Linked DNA regions of Homo sapiens: region 1 is linked to region 2. Evidence: fine-mapped expression QTL. Tissue or cell type: blood mononuclear cells. Region 2 holds a variant in brackets; the other region holds the start of a gene. All regions are shown on one strand. Distances are from middle to middle.

Region 1 (7,917 bases), 41 kb before region 2:
GCACCACTGCACTTCACCTGGATGACAGAGTGAGATCCTATCTTTAAAAAGTAATAATAAAATAAACAAGTAAATAAGTACCTGCTATAATAATTTACTTCCTGTAGGGATAACCCCTAATTACATATAATTAAATTGTAATTACAATTTCAGTGGGATGACTTCTATGAAGGAAACAAGGCTGGGTAGGGACCAGTGTTGCCTCTTCTCCATCCTTTCCTAGCAGTCTGGCTATGAGGCCGCTTGGATCCTGAAACTGTCCTCATGTCTCGATTCCTCCACGGGCTCCGTTTCAATAGAGGGGTGTGGTTTTTATTTTTTTATTTTTATTTTATTTTTTGAGATGGAGTTCGGCTCTTGTCTCCCAGGCTGGAGTGCAGTAGCGAAATCTCAGCTCACCGCAACCTCTGCCTCCTGGATTCAAGCGATTCTCCTGCCTCGGCCTCCCAACTAGCTGGGATTTACAGGCGTGTGCCACCACGCCTGGCTAATTTTTGTATTTTTAGTAGAGACAGGGTTTCATCATGTTGGCCAGGCTGGTTTCAAGTCCTGACCTCAGATAATCCACCCGCCTCGGCATCCCAAAGTGCTGGGATTACAGGCGTGAGCCACCTCGCCCGGCTCGGGTGTGGTTTTTAAATGAGCACTTTTTAAATGTCTATCTCTAGCTCAGTCTTGGGGGCACTGCTCTCACTCCTCCATCGAGTCTGCTTTCCTCAACATCTGTTTGTCAGGCTCTGCTCCTTCTTGGGTCGGTTGCCCTTTCATTCTGTGGCTTTCCTCCGACGTGTGCTGTCTCTGGGTCATGGGCTGTCTGACTCCTTGCTGGCTCCTGGGAGGTGTGGGAGGGGCAGTGTGAAATGTCTTCTGGCCTGTTTTCTGCAAACACGAGGCAGTGGAGGCCTTTTTGCATGGGGCAGCTAATACTGTCATTGAGGCTTTTGGGTGGAGGCCCATCCTGCTCCTGGCACAGCACTCCGGCCAGGGGGCTTACAATCAGGGCCCTCTTGAGAGGTAACCAGCACCCCACCCCTGCTGCTGCCTGGCCCAGGGGAAATGGGGGTGTGGAGGGAGGCCAAGGGGCCACTGAAGAGTAGCTGGCCGTGGTGGGCTCCCTCTCAGTTTCCAGTCCAAAGAGTCCCTGCTTTCCAATGCTGTGTGCGCGTGTGTGTGTGTACACTCCCAAACTTTATATTTAAAAGAAACTATATTTTGGCTGAGCGCGGTGGCTCATGCCTGTGATCCCAGCACTTTGGGAGGCCAAGGTGGGTGGATTCCTTGAGTCCAGGAGTTCAAGACCAGCCTGGTGATCTGCCTGCCTCGACTTCCCAAAGTGCTGGGATTACAGGTGTGAGCCACTGCACCTGGCCTAATAAACTTCATTTTATTTTATTATTTATTTATTTATTTTATTTATTTTTATTTATTTATTTTTGAGACGGAGTCTTGCTCTGTTGCCCAGGCTCTGGAGTGCAGTGGCGCAAACTCGGCTCACTGCAAGCTCCGCCTCCCGGGTTCATGCCATTCTGCCTCAGCCTCCCGAGTAGCTGGGACTACAGGTGCCCGCCACCATGCCCAGCTAATTTTTTTTGTATTTTTAGTAGAGACGGGGTTTCACTGTGTTAGCCAGGATAGTCTCGATCTCCTGACCTCGTGATCCACCTGCCTCGGCCTCCCAAAGTGCTGGGATTACAGGTGTGAGCCACCGTGCCCGGCCTATTTATATTTTTTGAGATGCAGTCTCGCTCTGTCGCCCAGGCTGGAGTGCAATGGTGCAATCTCAGCTCACTGCAACCTCTGCCTCCCAGGTTCAAGCAATTCTCCTGCCTCGATTACAGGTGCCTGCCACCACGCCCAGCTAATTTTTGTATTTTTAGTAGAGACGGGATTTCACTATGTTGGCCAGACTGGTCTCGAACTCCTGAGCTCAGGTGATCTGCCTACCTCAGCCTCCCAAAGTGCTGGGATTACAGGCGTGAGCCACCATGCCCGGCCATAAACTTTATTTTTCAGAACAGCTTTATATTTACAGAAAAACTGTGATGATAGTTTAGAAAGTTCACATATATGCCACACCCAGTTTCCTTTATTTTAATATCTTATAATATGGTGCATTTGTTGCCTTTGATGGACCAATATTGATACACTATGATTAACTATGGTCCAGCTTTACTAGGCTTTCCTTAGCTTTACCTAATGTCCTTTTTCTGCTCCAGGATCCCATTCAAGACACCACATTACAAACGAAAATGTATTTTCTGTCATTTCTGGGACAACGGACAGGGTGGGGACGCAACAGTATGTGCTCCTGGCTCGTCAACACCGTGAAGCTGGGTTTCTGGCTCCCCAGGGACTTGGGGAGCACTTGGCAAGGGCATCAGACTTGATTTCATGCATCCTGGGTGTCTGTTCCACTCCCAGGTCTTCTTCAGCATGTCCTCTGACTTGTCCCCTCTCTGGCCTCAGTTTCCTCATCTGGAAAATGAGGGCCTTGGTGAGTTTCCTCTGGATAGGCGGTGGCCTGGGGCAGAGGGAACTGGCAGGCTTGGTGTTGTCCTGAGGGTGGAGCTGGGGCTCAGGGCGGCAGATCTCACGGAGTTCAACACAGGGGCGAAGGCTCTGATTTTGGAAGCTTTTTAATTCAAAGGTCAGGGGCCAAAGTCATGCCCCAGCCTTGCTGTTAATTCCTCTGTGCCTCAGGCAAGGCGCTCCTCATCTCTGGGCCTCAGTCTCCTGATCTGTAAAGTGATGGCTGGTGGGATGACTTCTGAGGACCCTTCTGGCTGGGAACAGAGCAGGCTGCCCTGGGAGCAATGAGTCTTCTCCCAAGGGTGCAAGCTGGGCCGGGAGGCCTCCTGGGTGTGGCAAGGGGTGATGGCCATGGTGGCATGTGGGTCCCCCTGCTGATGGAAAATCTGGCCTCTGTGTCCACCTTTCCCATGGCTAATTCAGGGGATGGTGGCTGGCGGCTGCAGGACACCCATGCCTTCCTTCCTGGCTCACTCAGGACTGCCTTTGGCCCTGAGCTAAGGAAGGCCTGCCAAGTGTACCAAACCCCGGGCCATGGACTTCCATGGGACGCACAGAAGCACGCCCTCACTATGTGCGAGCCTGTGGCAGCGCTGGCTGATGTGTCAGTCAGCTCCCAGGCAACTGCCAGCCGAGGCCAGGCTCTGGCCCACAGGCACAGCAGGTCCACCCTCCAAAACTCCAAGGGAGTGGGAGAAGGAACAGAGGCATCACTGAGAGGGTGAAGATGAGGGGCCCTGTGCCCTTACCTCCCCAAAACTAGACTTTCCATTTGAGAACATTCAGGTTCTGCCTTGTTTCCAAGCGTTTGCATCTGCTGTTCCCCCTAGCACCAATGCCTTTCCCTTTTCTAGCTGTTGAACTCCTACCCACCCCTCAAGGCCCAATGCAAAAGTTCCTTCTATTGGATCCTAGCTGCTTCAGGGCCTACCTGTGTCATGGCACGTATCACCCTGAATCATAACAGCCACTTCTGTACCTGTGTCCCCATCCAGAACTCAAGTTCCCTGAAGGCAGGAGTGGGTCTGACTCATCCCTGTGAGGTTGCTGCAGACGCATTATCTCCCCTTTGCATTATTGGTGAAAGGGCCGGGTGGAGGAAGGGAGGATTGCTGCACCAACCTTTCCTCGGCGCCTGTTTACTGGCACCGTCGCATCCATTCCACGCCGATCCTCCGCAGTCCCCCTATCCTGCCAGCCGCTCCTCCTTGGGGCAGGGGCGGCGCGAGCCACAGGGGCGTGCCCGCGAGCGGGTCGGGGCTGCGGAGAGAACGGGCCGGGGTAAAAACCCGACGGCTGCCCGCGGGTGGGCGGGGCGCGCAGAGCCGGTGGGAGGCCGCGGTGGCAGCAGTCGCCCCCGCGCATCGAGGGACCCAGGGACTCGCGCAGATGGCACGCGGCCACCTCGGTCCTGCCGGGGAGCCCCATTTCCAACCGAGGCAACTGAGGTTCCCAAAGCGCCAGCTACCCGCCGGGGTCTGGAGAGCGCCGGGGCCCGGCCGCCCCGCCCAGCCAGAGGTGCCCCGCCCCAAGCCTGGCGCACCTGGCCCCGCCCCGCCGGGACCCCGCCCCCGCCCTAATCAGAGCTGGTTCCGCGCCGCGGCCGCCGCGACAGGTGCAGCAGAGCCGAGCCGGCCGCGCTCCGAACGGCGCCTCCCGCCCCACCATGGGCAACAGCGCGAGCCGCAGCGACTTCGAGTGGGTCTACACCGACCAGCCGCACACGCAGCGGCGCAAGGAGATACTGGGTGAGCGCCGCGCGGGGCCCACCCCGGTGGGGACCGCCCCGTTGGCCCGTCTGGAGTCGCGTCGTGGGGTCGAGCCCAGACGGGCCGCTCCAGCTCTGGCCCAAATTCCAGTGGGCGTTCCGCCATTGCCGCTCCCCTCCCTGGGGTCCCCGGCCGGCTCCCCGAGGGTCCCCCACCCTGGCCGGGTCTGAAACTCCCTGGGACCTGAGGATTCCGAGGACCCCAGTACGGGTCCGAGCGCCAGGGAGCGCGTCCCAGCTGTTCCTCGCGAGCCACTCCCGGGGCCAGGGCCGGGGCTCTGGGATGCTGGGACGCGAGGGCGCAGGGGCGGCCCCGGGACGCGCTACGAGGCGCACGCGCTCCCTGGCGCGGAGGCAGCTTGCGCGACGCGGGGCCTCCACCCGCAGTCACTGGGCGCCTGCTGCGCTCAGAGCCCCTGGGTCTCGCGGCCACGGGCGCCCCAGGCTGGAGTTCAGGGCGGATGAGCGCCGGGAAGGGAGCAAACGCGAATGAGAGGCGCGCGTGTTTTCTTTGAAAAAAGCAAAGATTGTACTAAAGAATCCTTCTATTCTGGCATGTCGCTTATTACGTGGTGGCTGTTTTCCTTGTTGCTTCGTGTCCTCTGCGAGGAGGGCATCTTTACCCACTCGGAGTCACTCTCGTTCATGCCAGAGGCCCCATCCCACCCACAAGCAAGGTGGCCCCGGTGAGTCGTCCTTGGCCCGGGCTTACGGGGTTAAAGGGCCTGCGTCTGGAGAGTGGCTTTTGCCAGATGCCACCAAATCGCCACAGGCTGAGACAGGCCCGCCCCTCCCGCCCTGCCTAAGTCAGCACCGCGCGTTGCCACACTTTGTAATCTTCAGTCAGATTGGGGAAACAATACCATTTCACTGTGGCTTTAATTTGCACTTATTTGATGGAGGTTTCACATTTTAATCGGGCGTTTTATTTAATTTAATTAATTTATTTATTTAGAGACAGAGTCTCGCGATCTCGGCTCACTGCGACCCCCGCCTCCCAGGTTCAAGCGATTCTCCTGCCTCAGCCTTCTGAGTAGCTGGGATTACAGGCACCTGCCACCACACCCGGCTAATTTTTGTATTTGTAGTGAGATGGAGTTTCACCATGTTGGCTAGGCGCGATCTTAGCTCACTGCAACCTCTCCCCACTGGGCTCAACTGATCCTCCTACCTCAGCCTCCTGAGTAGTTGAGACTGCAGGTGTGTACCACTATGCCCGGCTATTTTTTTTGTATTTTTACTAGAAACAGGGTCTTGCCATGTTGCCCAGGCTGGTCTCAAACTTCCGAGCTCGAGGGATCCACCCATCTCAGCCTCCCAAAGTGTTGGGACTACAGGCATGGGCCATGAGCCACCACGCCTGGCCTGAACAACTTTTTTTTTTTTTTTTTTTTTTTTTGAGAGGAAGTCTTGCTCTGTCGCCCAGACCGGAGTGCAGTGATGCGATCTCCACTCACCGCAACCTCCGCCTCCCAGGTTCAAGCGATTCTCCTGCCTCAGCCTTCTGAGTAGCTGGGATTACAGGCACCCGCCACCACACCCGGCTAATTTTGTATTTGTAGTAGAGATGGGGTTTCACCATGTTGGCTAGGCTGGTCTCAAACTCCTGACCTCAGGTGATTCACCCGCCTCTGCCTCCCAAACTGTTGGGATTACAGGTGTGAGCCACTGCGCCCAGCCAACTTTTTCTTTCTTCCTCTTTTTTTAATCCCATGGCAGCATACTGAGATACCATGACTTTTAAATGTTTGAAACCCAAGATACATTGGGTGGCTAGCCTGTGACTGCATCCCGGGGTAACTGGGGCCTCAGGAGCTGGAAGCCTCTATGTGGGTTTGTGACTGCTGTGGTTTCTCCTGGGAGGTGAGCTGCAGCCCAGCATCGTCTGGTCCCAGCAGTGGTAGCTGCCTCCCGTATGCTGTGGAACTCCTGGGGAGGGCTGGGAGGAACCTTGGGGGTCATCTGACCCTCCCTCCCTGCTCATCATGTGAACAGGGCAGGTGTCCTGGCTACTGCCCCTCAGCAGGTCTGAGGTGGGGCTGAGGCTGGAGCAGGGGCCTCCTTGGCCCTGTTTGCATTTCTGTCCCCTCCCCTGGCTATCCCCAGCTTCACTTCACAGGACTCATTGGGTATCTGGCACCATGTGGAAAAGGCAAGAGGCACATGGCAGCCAGTGTCCTGGTCCCTAGGAGCTCATATCCATAGAATAGGAGCTGGGCCTACCTCAGGGCCACCTGGAGGGATCCAGACACTCTGGGCTGTGGCCTCACTTTCCCAATCTGCAAAACGGGCAGTCGTCCTACCAGGCAGAGTAGGTGTGAGGATGAGATGATATCTCAGCTGGGAAGGTGCCCGAGGTGGTACCTGGCCCTCCAGGACGTGGGGAAGGAGCTCTCTCTAAAGAGGGAAGCCACAGGCCCTGGAACCAATCCAGGAGGCTTTCTGGAGGTGGTGGCTAGGAAGGTTGAAAGACTTGGAAAAGGGAGAGGCACCTGGGGCCAGGGCTTGGGGAGCACAAGTCCTCAGGGCGGGCCCTCCAGCTTGGTCCACGCTCCCTTTCCTGCAGGGCGGAAGCAGGGGCTTCCTTTCCACCTGTTGTTTTCAGCTAATAAATTTGGAATGTGCCATTCCCTCCCTCCCCGGCACAAGCTGTTCCCCCAGGTGAATGTCCCTCCTCCCTGCTCTGCCAGGCTCTGTCTTGCTTAGCCTTGCTCGCTCAGTTCAGTCCCACCTCCTGCAGAAAGCCCCTCCACTGCTCCCAGACCTGGCCCAGCTGGATGGGGACCCCTCCTCTGGGTTCCCCTCCATGGCTCCAAGCCCTCTGGGCTCTGGGCTCTTTGGGGCACAGTTCAAGAGCTTGGCTGTGGAGCTGAACCCCTGGCAAGGACCCTGACACCCACTTATTAGCCACGGGTGAGTCTGTAAACAGATGAAGGAGTTGGGGCCTGGGCAAATGAAAAGGGGTTAATAAATCATACCTTCCTAATGGGGCTGCTGTGCAGATTAAACGAGGTGATATGTAAAGTGCTTATTCCAGGACTCGATGAGTATCAGCTGCGATGATAATGATTAATGTCTCAGAGACCTGGCAAGGGCTGTCGTTTCCCTAAGGACAGGGAATACTCTCTGCTTCCTCCATGCCTATGCTATTCCCAGGCCTTGGAGAAATGCTCTGTGTAACTGCCAGCATCTCTTTATAGAAGAGGCAGGAGTGAGGCTGAGAGAGGGGAAGCAACTTGCCGGGGAACACACAGGCCAGGCTGGTGCTCAGGCAGCCTCCTGCCCCACCCAGCTGGCTCCTGCAGCCTATGCCAAGCTCCTGGGTGCCCAGGGATGTTCAATAAAGATCATAATCTGACAGTCAGAATCCAGGAAGTCCTTGCAAAGAGCTGGCTCCAGGAGCTCTGTGGGTTGGGGCCAAAGTCCATCTCCAGCTCCTGCCGGGGAGGGGGACATGCTCCCTAGAACATAACTTCCTAAGAAAGTGGGGTCTCCTAGGCCAGGGCTGAGGCTCCCTGACCTGAAAGGGCAGGACCGGAGCCAGCGAGACTGGCCCCATCAGAGACCCAGCCAGGCGTGGCCGGTGGAGTAAGAGGCAAGCTCTGGGTTTGTTTTTTTTT
Region 2 (7,917 bases):
TGACACTGACAGCTGGCGGATGTCTTGGTCAGAGTTAAAACCTGGGTGTGTCTGAGCTGAGGCCTATGCTTCTAGACCTGGGGTGACCCCTGCTGTCTACAAAGGGTGTCTGGAGCTGCGGGTGGGAAGGAGCCAGACCCTGCCCTTGCTCCCCTTGTTCTAGACTGGTGTGGAACTTTCTGGCCACACCCTGCCCTGGACCCTGAAGGAGGGACCCCGGCATAGGCGAAGTCTGCTGTGCAGACCTCCTGTTCAGAGGAGGCTGGAGCTGGGGCCTGTGCAGGGCTTCCCATGCTGTGCCACAGTTAAGCTTCTGCCGCCACCTAAGAAAGAGCTGACTGTTCCTTCTCTGCCAGCTCAGGTGTCACTAGGGAACTGCAGAGAGTCGCAGTGACTGGGAGAGGGACTCTGGGCAGGCTGCTCTCATACCTCCCTGACAAGATGGGGAAGTGGCTTTGTTTCTGCCGCAGGATGGGGTCACAGCAATATTCAAGTTACAACTGCACTGATGATGTGGGGACAGCCCTGTTCCCTCCTACTTCATAGAGGACCAAGGTCTTAGTGGTTCTTCCCTCCTTGTTCTCAAGAAACAGAAGGAATGAATATGTGAACATTATTACCAGAGCAACGTCCAGGCACTTTTTAAAATTTAATGTTAAATTTAACTCTAATTCTCACAGCCCTATAAGAAGGCTCCCATAAGGACTTGTAACAGCTGGGAAGCCAGGCCCAGAAAGGCTAAATGGCTTGCCCAAGGTCTTACATACAGCAAGTGGCAGATGCAAACCAACTGCAAATGCCACGTTCTTTCTTAAACTCAATCAGACAGTGGTGTCAGATTGAGACCAGCTTGAAGAAAGAAGGATGAATGTGGCAGACTCATAAGCTGCCCTTGGATGGTGTGCAAGGTGCTGTGGGCATGTGTCCCCCCGCCCCCTGACTGCCACTCATCCTGGCTGAGGCGGGAGGGATTCCTGGCGTTTCAGCTCCACGTCCGGGACTTGCACCTGAGCTGCTCTGCTGTGAGCTTGGCACAGGCTTTGGGCTCTGGCTTGGACAACTGGACATCTGCCTTGTTCTAAGACCGGGTCTCAACGGCTGAGTTCACTCCTGGATCTGGATTTTGTCCTTCTGGGAGCTGAGTCCCTGTCCCAGCGACCCTGTCTAGCATTTGGTCTGAGGGTTGGCCCTGCCCTAGGATGGAGGCCTTTCCACGCTTGGGCTCCACCAGCTGTCGCAAGATCCTTCTGTGTCTGTGGTCTGGCCTTGCCCAGGTCACTGTAACTGTTTTCCACCCTTGTCAGGACCCCGATGGCAGCCAGCTGCCCACACACAGGCCTGTGTGGTTGTGTGCTTTGGATTCCCCATTTTGCCTGCTGGGCTGACGTCCTCCCAACACCCTCCCAACCTGTTTCTCCAGAGGCTGGGAAAGTCTAATAGGAGCCCTGGCCCTTCCAGAGGGCTCTGGCCCCTGCACCTAAGACCTGATTAAAAATTGGCTGGAGTTTTAGACCCGACAGAGCAGGAAAGGATAACACTTGATTGCACTGATTACGTAAGGCTTGCCATTCTTCTTAAACGAAGAAAATGTTCAATTGTTTTGAGCCACCATGGCCCTGAACATTATAAAAGTACAGTCCTTTTGTTTTAGGGGTGGGAGCTAAGGCCCAGCAAGGCGCAGGGGTCTGTCCAATGTCACCCAGGGTAACTGTGACAGACCTGAGGTTCCCATCGCCCCCTTACTCCTGGCCTCCTCCGTCCCCCGGCACAGCTTCCCCGTGGCAGTCGGGGGGAGGGACAGGGAAGGTCATTGCTGCAGACTGCTGGTGGCCCTTGGGAAGCTCCAAGCAGCAGCCCCTTGGCAGGTGCTTGTTCAGTGGGAGGAGTAGCTAAGGAAGGCTCCTGGCTGCTAGTAATCAGACTCCCTCGTGTCTAGTGGTGAGGCACTACACATGACTTCCCTGCGTGATGCAGGCAGAAGCCAAGGCGGAGGATGTGGCACCTGTCCCGTGCTGCAGATGAGCACCTTGGAGCCACCTCTCGTCGCCCGAGCTGAGCTTGGATTCCACAGGAGTCAGGGCGATGGGGATGGTGGGAGTCCCAGCTCTTCCCTCTCTGCCTCCCACGGCTCGTTAGGTAACGGAGTCTTGTTGGTGCTGTGTCGGCTGCCCCACAAAACACCCTGCTTCTCTGCTGCCACCTGGCAGCCTTGGCGTCTCTCTCTTGGACCCTCACCTCCACTCTCTCTCATTCTGACAGTGTGGCCTAAGTGATGTCTGGGAAACACAGACATGACCTGCACAGGGTTGGGTCCAGGCTCCATTGAATAAGATTCAAGGTTTCAGCCTAGGCCCCAGGCCACCTTGTGGCTGCGCCTCCCCGACAGTCCTCCATAGCTGACCTCCTGCACCTGGACACTGGGCCCGGCCCCACCATGCTTCCTGTCTCTCTGTGTTTTGTGCGCTACTCAACCCATGTGGGTCACCTTTTCCTGCCGTCTCCACCAAGCAAGGCTTCCAGGCCCAGCTCAGTGGTCACCTCTTCCATGAAGCCCTCCCCAGGTCCTCATGCTCCTTCTCACCAACCGGTGCCCATGCGCCTCTCTTAAAAACTGACAGCTTTCTCACCCATATTCCAGTAATTTGGGAGCTGCCTTCTTTTCTGTACTAGACCCTGGGCTTCTTGCAGGCAGAGAGCACGTCTCACTCCGCACTCCACGCTCATAGCCTGGCTCGCATCAGACACTTAGTTCATATTCCACTGAACTAAGTCAGGAAGGGGAGAGGGGGCTCAAGCTCACTCACCCTTGGGGAAAAGTTCAGGTGAAGGAGTCATGCTGAACTGACTTGAGTGAAAAGAAAAACCTAGGAGGTGAGCCACGGAGATATAGGGATTAGAAGGGGTCCCCCAAGTTCATGCTTGTCCAGAGAGGATGCAGCAGTGTAACGATGCCCTGCCAGCACCAGGTACCCTCTGCTGACCAGAGGCCTTAGGGACAAACTAAAGTCACAGAGCTGCTGACCCAGCCTTTTTCTCAGGGCTGTGAGTTTCAGATGCCTTTCTGCTAGAGGACCCTGTGGCTCTGCACACAGTGGCAGAGCGCAGAGTCACCTTCTGTGGCCATGAGGTGCCCTCCTTTGTACAGTGAATGTATGGCAACGATGGTCTGCGGATCACATCTTAATTGTCTTGTTCCCATGAGGTACTAACCTGGGCAGGCAGTGGGCACGAGAGGACCTGGCCTAAGTTCTGCCTCACATCTGCCTAGTCATGCACCCCTAGGCAAGCTGCTGTGCCCTCATCTGTAAAATGGGAGTCCTAATACACTAACGCTAACAGTGGTACCTCACCAAGCTGCGGTGAGGAATAAACAAACTCTAGGAGTAAAAACCACATGGTAATCCATAAAGTGCTGGAAATATTTGTTCGCATTACTGTTGAAAGCACACTGTTGATCTTTCTGCTGAGTTGGACGGGAACCTGCCTATGTGCTGGCTTAAGTGGCCCTCTGCCCCCCAAGCCTTGCTGGTGTGGTCCCCTCGGTGGAGCGCTTTCTTCTCCACAGGCTGCGTGCACTCACTGCCCAGCTGGTTCCACCACGGCCCCCTGAAGTATACGGGATGAGTGGTGGTGGTTCTCAGGGGTGAGGGGACTTGCCCAGAGCCACAGGGTTTGTGACGCTGGCCCCAGTGTCCCAAGCTTGTTGAGTCTGGGAGCTGATTTTGCCGAGGCAGGGGCCTGGCCCATTCACCTGGGACTCCAACTAAGAAAACTCTCACCCTCTTCTCATTCATCTCAGACAAATTTTGTCAAGTCAAAATAAAGAGGATGAGATAGGAAACAAGCATGAGAAGAAATTCAAAAATTAAAAAAGGAAAAATAAAAGAACCCATCATGCCACAGACAAATGAAAAAGAGAAAGGGAAATTTCAGGTCCAACATCAAACAAGAGCAGGGTGGCTGGGCATTCATGGTGTCATGTGGGTCCAGCCCTTGGTGGCAGGGCTCACCACTGGTAGCAGGACGGGCCATAGGTTCCCTGGCTGACCTCTTCTCTGAACACAAAGAGCTGCAGGAGGACAGAGGCTGAGACCCAGCCAAGGCTCAAGTCCAGGCTGGCCTGCTCCAGGGCCCGCTGGACTGTGATGATTCTTGGGAAGGAGCTGACTTCTTGCTGTCTTGGAGGCCCACTTTCCAGCTT[C/T]GAGTCTAAGTTCCATCAAACACCCACTCCTCCCAAACACAGTGGTGAGTCAGAGGAGCCCTTTTACTCTTAGGAGCCATGAGCTGGGGAGAAACACACAAGAGGGGAGGGAAGGCTGGGCCAGACTCAGCCATGAGCCCTCCTGAAAGGGAGGGGTGGTGAGGTGGGGTGAGGGGGCCAGCCACAGGGGACAGGAGCTGACAGACTCAGGGCAGAGTCTATATGACTGATGGGGAGTGGGGCCAGGAGGTCCGAGTCCCTTCTCACTGGGGAGAGTGAGCACTGCAAGAGGCGGGCTCCCGTCTGGCAGCATCTCTACCTGGGACACACTACAGGCGTTTGGCGGTCACTCCCCTTTGCTGCTATTCTGCAAGCAGGGACATGAAGAATTGCCATGTGCCCTTCACAGGCTGCTCCAAGGAGGAGATGAGCTTATACATGGTCCTTGTATTGTACCTTTTCAAAAGGCTTTTATAGCATCTCTCTCTGACATAAGGATTTGACAAAGGATTCCAAAGCAAGGTACTGCCATCTTCAAGAAAGCTGTCCTAGTGTAGTGGAAAGGGGTAGGGAGAGCACAGAAGAGGGAAAATCTGGGCACGCATTATGGGCTTCACGGAGAATGAGCCAGATGCAGGTGACACTCCTCCCCTCCCACTTCCTCATAGCCTGCTGAGACTCGGGCGGTCAGGCGTGGCCCAGGTGTAGGAGAGCACCTGCTCATGGGACTCTGAATGTGAGTCCGAGTTCACCAGGATCCATGACATATGCTTGCACATACCAGGAAGGGCAGGAGGAAGAGCGTGGCCAACAGAACAGCCTGACTTTAACTCCATGGACATAACTGTTTTGCTCACCTCTGTATTCCCAGTACTTACCATAGTTTTTGACCTATAGTCAATGCAATACATATTTGTTAAGTACGTGGATGACTGGCCCCAGGCAAACTGAGCATCTCCAGCCACTGGGCGAGCCTAGAGCGAGTGACACAGTCTTAGAGAAAATAGCAGAAGTCTAATGGCTTATAAGCTCCCAGAGCAGGAAACAGTGGCTGAGCTGAGGACTGGGCCTCACGAGCTATCAGTGAGTGACACACCATAGGCCACCAGTGGCAGTGGCACTTAGAAAATACAATGAGTTGGGGTAAGGAGAGAACTCAAGTTTATTGAGTGTGTATTACACTACGTACTAGATCCTGTGCCAGAGACTCAGACACCACCTCGTTTAGCCTCCCTCGTCCTAGGAATCCTGCTGTGAGCTCCACTCTACCCGTAAGAAAGCTGGAGAGTTGGAAAACTGAAGTAGCATCTTTGTGGCCTCTGAACAGTCAACAGTTAAGCCAGGCTTCAACCCCAAAAGAGAGGACTCTAAAGCCCTCCACAGAGTCACCAAGACTGCAGGGGGATAGGACACATGGAGGAAGAAGGGTCAAGCGGGGCACAGAGACAGGGAGAGCAAGAAGGGGAGCCCAGCCCTGGTGCGAGTGTGAGAAGCTGCGGCTCGGAGCCCCCTGGCGGAGCCCCTTCTTGGGCAGGAGTGTGGCACATTGCCAGCACCCAATGGCCTTGCTGCCTCAATGCCCATCCACGTGGCACCGGGAGAGGTATCCCAGGAGCTGGACAGGTTCTCAGGGCTGTACAGAGAGCCTTAGGAGCCACCCGGTCTGACCTCAAGTGCGAGGCCCTAGCTGGGGTGGGTGGTTCTCACTGGCAAAGTCTTCTTCCCAAAGGGTGAAATCTGTCTTGCCAGGACTGCCCCCAGTGGTCTGTCAGGACCACAAAGACCGTCTCTCTGTGCTGGCCTGGCAGCCCTGGTGCACTCCCCTCCAGGCCTCCCTTGGTCCCCGTCCTGTCTTCCAGTCCCTTTCCGCCTTGGCTGTGCTCTCCTGGACGGTTCTGGATTGTACGAATCCCCTTCAGAGTGAACTGTGCTGGAGCTCTGCCAGTAAGTTAGGTGTGTGGGAGTCTCTCTCCTCTCTGGACTTCCATTTTCTATAAAGTGAGAAGCGTGGAACCAAGGATCATCAGCTCCAAATTTCTACAACTCTAAAGGACAAAGGAGGAAATATACTAAAATGTTCACAGTGGCTATCTCGGGATTGTGGGCTTATATTCCTCTCTCTGAATTTCCAAATCATGCACTACCTCTAAACAAATAAATGTCTAAGAGACCCTACGGAGGAGAATCCCTGCTCTGCGATCCATCCTCCGCGAGGTATGGTGGGCGCGGGGTAGGCAGGGAGCGGTGTGGCTCCTGTCTGAGGTAATGCATTAATTTATACAGCCAAAGGCAGGCAGACAAGGCGAGGAACTACTGACCCCTCCTCCTGAAGAAGGCCTTCCTCTTGGCCACCCCTGAACATTTATGAGGCTCTGGGAGACCAGCCCCCAGCTCCTCTGGGATGGAAGGGATGGGCTCAGTTTCCAGTTAGTCTCTATGGGAAGTCTCCCTGGGGCTCCTGAAAAGATAGAACCGGAGATGTCAGGGGTGCCAGAGACAAAGGATCCAGCACTTGCTCAGTGATGCTTGATGGAATTTCTGGCCAACAAACGACAGCCACCTGGTCTGAGCTGGGCAGAGTCCCAAGTTCTTCTAAGGCCTCCTCCCTGCTCTGCCATCTTTCTGGCTGGCTCCTTTCCCTCTTTCCAGAGGGTCCCCTCATTTTACAGTGAGACTGGGCCATCCCCGGCACACCTTTCCCTCTTGTTACAAGGCCCTGCTTTCCTCACAGGTGCCATTCCTATCACCAAGCGAGCAAGTGTCTAAGCGAGAATGGAGTCTGTGAACTGGGCTAAGCTTGGTCTGGCCACTATCTTTACCGTCACCTGGCCAAGGCCATACAAGAATTGGTGGCAGAGCTGGGACCAGAGCCCACGACAAATGTCTCCCGGCCCAGGGCTCTGTCCACCCCAGTGCACTGATGCTCAGCACTGATTAATAAACAAACAGCTCTGCATTTGTCTTTGGGAAACAAAGGCAGCTAGTGTTGAACCCTATCCTCCGAGCTCAGCTCAGGAGGAGACAAATACCTGATTGTCACCCTCCCCATTCTAACACGAGCTTAGACAGCTTAGTTGCTTGCTTAAAGGAACCCGGCGTGAATTTTCTAGTCTTTTCTGCTGAGTTCTTACCACATGAATTTAGGCTCAAGCAGGCTGACATGTCTTACTCAGATTACCAGAGCCAACTGACCCACTGAAATCCTGCAACAGACCCTCCTACCTAAGCCCTGGCCCTGGGCTTAGCAGAGACAGCTCAGCTCCATGGTGACCAATAGGTAAAGCTGTGTCTAGGCGCTCAGGGTCTGAAAGACCTGTCAAGTTAGAAGGTCATCACTTACAGATGTGGGGATGGCACTTCAGAGAGTGGGGGACTGACCAGGGCCACAGTGGGAAGCACCCAGCCCTTGCAGTCATGCACTAACAAGGAGACACTGGAGAGGAAAAGCGCTTGAGTTCTGACAAAGGACAGCAGGGGGCCTGGTGCTGCGCATGTACCGGCGAGAAGCACCCCTTGTGTAGAGGGGTCCCGAGGCCCAGGGAAAGGGCAGGGGCTTGCCCAAGCTCACATTCACAATGAGGAAAGGAGGGCTAGACCCAGTCTCCAGCTTCCAGGCCAGGACACCCCACCCCCACTGTTTGGGCCCACTAGGCTGTGTTCCTTAGGGGAGTTGTTTTCCCTGCAGAATATTCTTTCTGTCTTCCTAATATGCTTAT

The links. PIP is the estimated chance that this variant, and not a neighbour inherited with it, causes the effect.
Region 1: DEGS2 starts here. The variant in region 2 is fine-mapped to the expression of DEGS2 in blood mononuclear cells (TOPMed, PIP above 0.99). The same link has a PIP of 0.9 or more in whole blood.

What each region holds. Positions count from the first base shown.
Region 1 is chr14:100,155,866-100,163,782 of GRCh38, reverse strand. It overlaps DEGS2 (delta 4-desaturase, sphingolipid 2), which reads left to right and starts at 4,138. Exons shown (of 3, transcript NM_206918.3): 1 at 4,138-4,277. The coding sequence starts at 4,196. It overlaps LOC124903380 (a long non-coding RNA gene), which reads right to left and starts at 3,746. Exons shown (of 2, transcript XR_007064330.1): 1 at 3,652-3,746; 2 at 2,069-2,475. RefSeq lists silencers at 3,792-4,191, 4,292-4,351.
Region 2 is chr14:100,115,162-100,123,078 of GRCh38, reverse strand. All of the region lies in intron 3 of EVL (Enah/Vasp-like), which reads right to left. Among named protein-coding and RNA genes, the nearest start is that of MIR342, 9.5 kb to the right of the region's middle. The variant C/T (reference allele first, on the strand shown) is at 4,202.